Linked DNA regions of Homo sapiens. The protein of the gene in region 1 interacts with the protein of each later gene in a biochemical or structural test. Each region holds a gene or a part of one and is shown on either strand. Other genes may lie near its edges.

The links. The genes of interacting proteins can lie anywhere in the genome.
Region 2: the proteins of SPTB (region 1) and ADD1 form a complex in vitro, tested with the Homo sapiens proteins (one study listed by BioGRID).

Annotation. Positions count from the first base shown.
Region 1 is NC_000014.9:64,873,234-64,876,985, reverse strand, and holds part of SPTB (spectrin beta chain, erythrocytic), read left to right. Parts: intron 1-3,752.
Region 2 is NC_000004.12:2,902,838-2,906,589, reverse strand, and holds part of ADD1 (alpha-adducin), read right to left. Parts: intron 1,827-3,752; coding exon 1,482-1,826; intron 1-1,481. UniProt on the Homo sapiens protein: Membrane-cytoskeleton-associated protein that promotes the assembly of the spectrin-actin network. Binds to calmodulin.

The sequences.
Region 1 (3,752 bases):
CTTACTGGCTTAAAGGCAAGACCTAACTGAATGTACCTGATCATTGATGTGTAGCTATGGCACCCACACTTCTTATTACTCGAGTTCATTTCTTTCCTGTCTCACTCTCAAGGCCAATATGGTTTACTTCCTGAAGTTCTGCCTAACCAAACTACTGAGATTTTATTTCCTTTGGAGGAGATTATGAGAGGATGTGTTTTTAATATCTAGTCCTTTCATTTTAGTGCAATCTTAAAGAAAAGGTACTGAGGATAAGCAGGAGAGAAGGCAGTCTCAGGCTTTAAACTCTAAACTGTTCTATAATCTCCCCCATTGCTTGTAAGGTGTACACATGTATACATTTTAAAACAATAGTTATACACATTACGATCTAGAGACAAGAAATCTTAAGTAATTATGTCCATTTTTGGGGGGCATGGGGAAGGACTTTAGAGAACTGTTGAGACCGTCAGATACGTGTTTTAACCTAAACCCAATCACCAAATTGTTCTTGAAGAGCAGCACTTTAATTTCAAAATCAAACACAAAATTTTACTGTCTGCTCAAGACCTGAAAAGGTAGGAAACATGACCAGTGGGAGATTTAAAGTAGAGATGGGGTTTCACCATGCTGGTCAGGCTGGTCTCAGGAGTTCGAGACCAGCCTGGCCAAACCTATCTCTACTAAAAATACAAAAATTAGCCAGGTGTGGTGGTGGGCACCTGTAATCCCAGCTACTCGGGAGGCTGAGACAGGAAAATTGCTCGAACCTGGGCGGTAGAGGTTGCAGTGAACCGACATCGCGCCACTGCACTCCAGCCTGGACAATAAAGTGAGATTGTGTCTCAAACAAACAAACAAAAAATTGATATAAAAAAGCCAGGTATAGTGGCTTATGCCTATAATCCCAGTTACTTCGGAGGCTAAGGGAGGAGGATTGCTTGAGCCAGGGAGTTAGAGAGGCTGAACTATGATTGTGCCACTGTACTCCAGCCTGGACAACAGAATGAGGTGCCATCTCTAATTCATGAATTAATTAAAAAGTGATTTAAAATATGTTTCTTTGTTATGGAATTTTAAAATTATAGAATTTAAAAAAATAACCTGAGACCTACAGATTAACATTTATCAATGAACTTGGGAAGATCAAGAGTGAAAATAACTGTGCTATGTGGGCTGATGAGAAATTTGATTATATAATGAGGACTGGCAAGGAAGTTCATGGATACTGGGTTCTGAAACCATATGGATATCACAAGCCAAAAATGACTGTGGAAAGAAGAATTTTATCTTTGAAGCAGCTTGTATTGACTCAGTTGATTTTAACAGACAGATCGTAGGTTACTCCTCTGTTTTAGATAAGAAATCTGAGGAAGAAGAGTAGATGCAGTGGTCTGTGTGCCAGAATCATCATGTGGCATTTGCTGGGTTTATCACAGAGATGCTTCCTTCTTCACCCCATTAGGGGAAGGTCACCTGTTTTGGAGATGGAGATAGTGATTGAGGAAGAGCGTAGGAGGCAGTCAGGAGAATTAACTGTCAGATCTGGCTCTGCTCACGGATTGCCAACTCCCCTTGGTAAATATTTAGAAAATGCCATAGTGTGTTTCCCTCTGTTGCTGCGTGTATTTCTTAATTCACAGCCAAGTGATCCACATTCTTCCATTTTCAGCCAGCCTCAGCTGAATATCAAACCATCAGGGGATCCCTAGCCTTTATAGCTCACGTAGTCTTAGAGGTGGTCATAGACAGAAAATGCTTCCTTAATGAATTGTCTGGCTAGCTTATCAAATTCCCAGACCACCTTTCATTTTTCTCTTTCCTTTTCCTGGTTGCAGGAAATATTACAAAGCCCTCTTCTTCCTACCTCAGCAAGCCCTTCTCAGGCTTTGCCATAATGTTTTATTTCCACATCATACCTGTGCAGACCTGGCTGAGGGTAGAATTACAAGGGCAATTAAAACTCAGCATATATCATGTGAGCAGTGGGGGCAAAAGTGGGCTTCCTTTCTTTCATTTGAATGTTATAAATTTAGCAAGTGAAAAGGCACAGGGCTGAAAAAAAAATAGGCTTTGCATTGAACCAGGCTCAGATCATCCAGGATATTTATGAAGAGACTAACGGCACCTTGATAGCTAAAGAACAATAATTGCTTCGAATTATAGTCAATTTAGGAGTTTCCACCATTGTGAAAAGGAGAAGAAACTTGAATAATTCCGAAAATGAATACTTTGAAAATATTTTCCATTTGTACCAGACTTAAATATGGGCGTGTCTCACTTGAGAATGTATAGCAATTCAAATAAAACAAAGCATACTTTAAAGGCATAAATTATGTGGACCAGAAAGAAGTCTGTAACCTTATTCTGTCCCTCTTTTGAGTCCCAGCCTGTTTCTAGAAGAACCCTAGGAGTGGTCAATTAGCTTCATCTTCCAGTATATTTCCAGAAGGGTGGAAAAGCAAGAAAAGGCCTTTCATAATACTGACTTCGAGTCATAAGTCATAGAGAGTTAGAGGTAGAAAGGCCCGAGAGAGAATTGAGGTGTATTCAAAAAGAGCAGACATTGGGTGTCTACCACGTGTCTTACACTGTTATGTGCTGAAGACACACAAAGAGATCAGATGGAGAATCACTGATCTGGTGCGAAAATGGCCTTGCAAACAAGCAGTGATTCAACAGGATGCCTGAGAGAGAGGGTGTACAGGAGGAAACATCTCATTCAGGTTGGGGAATGAGAAGACCTTTGAAAGTGCCTAGGATTTCTATAATGGAAGAAGGGAGGATGAGGGGGCCTGCGAGTGGGGCTTTAGGAAATTGCCCAGCACAGACAATAAAGCATGATTAGGTTAGGGGATGAAGTGTAGTTCCACATGGCAGAAGTGTGACCAGAAAGGTGGTTGGGGTTCAGCCTGTGAAGAAGTTTGAGCCACTGGAAGTTTTTAAGTCATAAAGGGGTGTGATGAAATCTTTGTTGACAAAGCTCACCAGTGGCAGTGAAGAGAAAGTGAATTAGATCCCAGCCAGTACAAGATGATGATCACAGATAACTATAGTCCACTCAATTTTCAGCATGCCTTTGTCTACACATCATCTTATTTTATCTTATGATGAGCATGTGAAGGGAAGATCTGATTATTCCTGGTTTCCAGTTACAAAACAGGATTAGAAATGTACATTTATATACTCAATGTCCCTCTAGTAGTTTATTCCAAAACCTGACTTTGACCCAGTTGCCTAGTTCTGAGGCTGGGGCTGTTTCCAGGTCTTCTCAGTGGAGTAATTGAATATTCTGGGCCTTCTGGTTGAGACCGCGGTTGCTTTTTTTCTTCAGCAGAATATTCCACATAAGTTCATTGGTTCTGGAGAGAAGACACTTGTTAATGGTATTACCCTTTACCATAGCCACAGAACCTCAAGAATGGCCCTCCAGAGTATGCACAGATGCTGTTCCAAAGCATGAATTAATGGATTCTCAGTAGCATGCCATAGATAAATGAAGGGTTCATCTGCCCGTTAATTGATGTTTTGGGTTTTTCATTCCTTTACCCCAAATTTACTGGGCATTATTGTGCTTATGCTTCATTTTGGACTTCAGCAGCCTCTTTTTGTCCAGTGATCTTGAGGGCCTTGATTTGTATGTCAGTCTTCAACAAATATTTACTGAGTTCTCATTTAATTTGCCAGACATGCTGTAGGCCCAGGGAATGTAACAGTGAATGTGGCAAAAATGTCTGAAGTCGTAGAGTGCACATTGTAGTTGGGGGAGAGAG
Region 2 (3,752 bases), on another chromosome or scaffold:
AAATATAAATGCGGAGCAAGGCCTCCCCTTGGATGTACACATTGACTACTAGGCCTAAAGTGACTTAGTTGTTTTGCAAGCTAATGGTAAATAAAGCTCGCGCTGCTGCCTAAACGCTTTGGAAAACTTCCTCATGGCAATTCAGCACTGTGCTTCACATCAGCCGCAGAAAGGTGTTTTGGGGTTTTTTTTTTTTGTTTTATAACGCCCACTTCCTTTAACAAGTGAAACAAGTAAAAAATAAACAAATGAAAGAAAAGGGGAGACAGGAAGAAGGGGGGAAAGAAGACAAGGAGGGCAGGAAAGAAGAGGAGAGACGCACTCCCATGCTCAGAGCCCCATGGCCACACAGGGTCCCTGCCCAGGTGACGCGGCCGCTCAGGAGCACGGAGGCTTCTCACCAACTGCGTCAGGAAAACACCAGGACCACCTGGGGAAGATAAAACTTTTTTTCTTTAAATAAATCTATAAAGTAAAACACTGTTACAAGGGGAAAAGAAAGCCCCACTTTATGTATTTGGTTGCCCATGGTTTTAGGAGCATCTAATCTAATTTCAACTGAACTCCTAATGAACTAGTCATGCACAGATGAGTCTGCTTCAGCCCCTGTCTCCTCCATTCCAGGGGCTTCTGGAAATGGGCCTCTTCTACATACAGTTTAAAGCAGAGCTGGGTGGACTGTTAGAGGTAGGTTACAGGAGGAATAAAGACCCATCTTCAGAGGAGGTCTCAGCACCACGACATGGGAGCACCTCTCAGGACAAACGATAACTTGAGCGGCATTAACGCTGAAACGAAGCACCCCTTGCAGCGTCTGTCGCTGGTGCCTGCAGATGGCCTGCGCTGCACTTGGGTCATGCCGCACCCAACAGGAGTCAGAAGGTGACTCGCCACTATGGCCGTCTACTCACATGCAACAGTCCATGCAGAGGGCAGCTGGGGGTGTGCATTCGGAGGCTTTGGGATAGAAAGCAGGGGAATAACACTAAGGGCAGGGGACAAGAGTCAGCAGAGAACACGCCAGGGAGCCACAAGGGAAAACTGCTTAAGAAAACACTGAAGACTTAAGAAACTTTAGTGACTTGAAACCACTGGAGTTCACAACACTAAAATACAGGTTTAGGACTGAAGTGTCTTTTTGTGCATGAAGTATTAAGAGTCCCTGAATATAATTTGAATTAAATAAGAAGAGCTCCTATTTGTAGGTTAATACATGTAAATTATTGTATATTTTTGCTATATACGGAGATATACTGGAACTACTGCGGAGTTACATTACATCTTAAGCAGTTTCAAGCAGATAGTATTATCCGAATTTTAGTAATGCATTCAGTGGACTTAGGTTCAGACTACAAGAAAGTGAATAAGGAAGGTTCGCTTTACACCTGGGTCAGAAAGGCTGGATTCCCAAAGCCTCCGAAGCCCCAGCTACCCAACTTGCTCTACGTCATCTAACTATGAACAGTAAGGTAGGCACAGACCAAGCAGTTGGTAATACAGCTTGGCACGCAGACACCGGACGAGAGAGACTGCAGCAAGGGTTTCACGTGATCGTGTGTAATGTTCGTCCACACCTTAGTCTTCGACTTGGGACTGCTTCCATTCTGCCCTTCCTCGGAAGCTTCGTCGCCCCGGCCAGAGTTCAGCCATCTTGTCTTCTCCCGCTGCTGCTTCTGAAAACTGTGTCTGAGTGGGGAGCAAGTGCCCGAATCACCGTCACTAGCAAAGGAGTAACCTGTGACACTAGCAGGAACCTCCACATCGCTGTATTTTTTAGACTTCTCTCTCAGAGCAGGGTATCGATAAGGGTAGCCAGTTCTGTAGCCCTAGGGTCCAAGGAGAGTGAAAGACAGTCAATATTCCAGATCTCAAAACAGGGTTTCACTTTGGAAAATCATGTGGAAACATCCACAAAAGTTGAACACATGCATACCCTATGACTCAGTAATTCCACTCCTAATTTTACACCCCACAGAAGCAAATGTGTTCACCAAAAACCAGGTACTAAAATGTGGACAGCAACCCTACTCCTCGTAAACCACAATTGGAAACAACCCAAAAGTCCATCCATATAGGAGATGGATAGTCTAGTGTCTTCATAAGAAGGCTTATAGTGACACAATGTGCTCTAAACCAACCACGTGGATGACTCTCCTGAAGGCAACGCTGAGTGAAAGAGACCAACCTGCAAAGAACATACACCATGTAATACCATTCATTAAAAGTGCAGAAGATGCAAAACAACCTTTGTTTTGGTTGTCCTGGGAGACAGGACAGTTGTCACCCCTGGGATGGGACAAGTGAACTGAAGGAGGTGCTGGGGGTGTTCTGAGGTGCTGCTACCGTTGCTCTTATTGACTGCTGGTTATACAGGGGGTTCAGTTTTTAAAAATGAACAAACTGAACACTTGCGGTAGGTGCACTCTCCTGCTTACATATTTCAACAAAAAATTAAAGTTGAACACCCAAACAGGGTTTACTTGCTGCCAGCCACTGTGCAGGTTATATTCATCAACATACTTAATAGACTTTTACCTCTTAAGTTACAGTTTAAATACTGTGATAATCTTTAGGTAAGTAAGGTAAGTAAGTATACCTCATGACAACTGGTTCTCAGCAAAATTACTTTACGTCTGAATACAACAACATTCAAATTCACCTCCAGCTCTGCCTCATGACCATGTGCTCTGTGGTAAAAGACAGCCCCACTTACTTCATGCCTCTACTGGACCAACTCATCTGCAGAGTCCTCCCACAGACAGCATCTCTAAGGGCATGGACGGTGTCCTCTGCATCTCTCCTGGCCACACTTGGTAAGTGTGACAGACAGACTTCACAGTGGCCCCAGGCCCCCAGCTCCTGTAATCCCCTCCCACCTTGAGCACAGGTGAGATCTCTGACTTGCTTCTAAGTAGCGGAATTCACAAAAGGTGATGATGGGCTGTATCACAGAAGAGTTTAGCACCTATCTTATAAGAGTCTCTGTCTCTACTGCTGGCTCTGAAGAAGTAAAGCTGCCAAGAATGCTTCAGCCCTAAGAAAAGGAATTCTGTCCCCAGTCTAGAAGAGCCTGGATGTGGATCCTCTGAGTCAAGTCTCCTGATGAGAACCCAGCCCTAGCCAACACCCTGAATGCAGCCTTTATGAGACCCTAGGTTGAGTTCGCTGTGCCTGGACTCCTGCCCCACAGAAGCTAGGAAATAAATGGCTGCTGTTCGAAGCCACCAGGCCTGTAGTGATTTGTTGCCCAGCACAGAGAGGTAATACGGGGGATGCTGAAGAGCTGTCTGCTCAACAACCTAACAGATTCGCACCTGAACCAAGTCACTCACAGCACCTTCACAATACATCACAAGAGAATCAGGACTTGGAGGGACTGCACAGGGTCAGACATACAAGACACTTCAGTGGCCTGTGCCCTGCTGGCTGTGGTACTCTAGAAACAGTCCTCTCAATTCAGAATTCTCTCTCCCCTCTGGGTACTGCTCTTTTTTGGGGGCCATCTTCATTACTAATCACTCTTTCAATATTTTTTTTATTTTTTTAATTTAATTTTTTTTTTTTGAGACAGAGTCTCACTCCATTGCCCAGGCTGGAGTGCAGTGGCGCCATCTTGGCTCACTGCAACCTCCGCCTCCCAGGTTCACACTATTCTCCTGCCTCAGCCTCCTGAATAGCTGGGACCACAGGCACGTGCCACCACACCCGGCTAATTTTTTGCATTTTTAGTAGAGACGGAGTTTCACTGTATT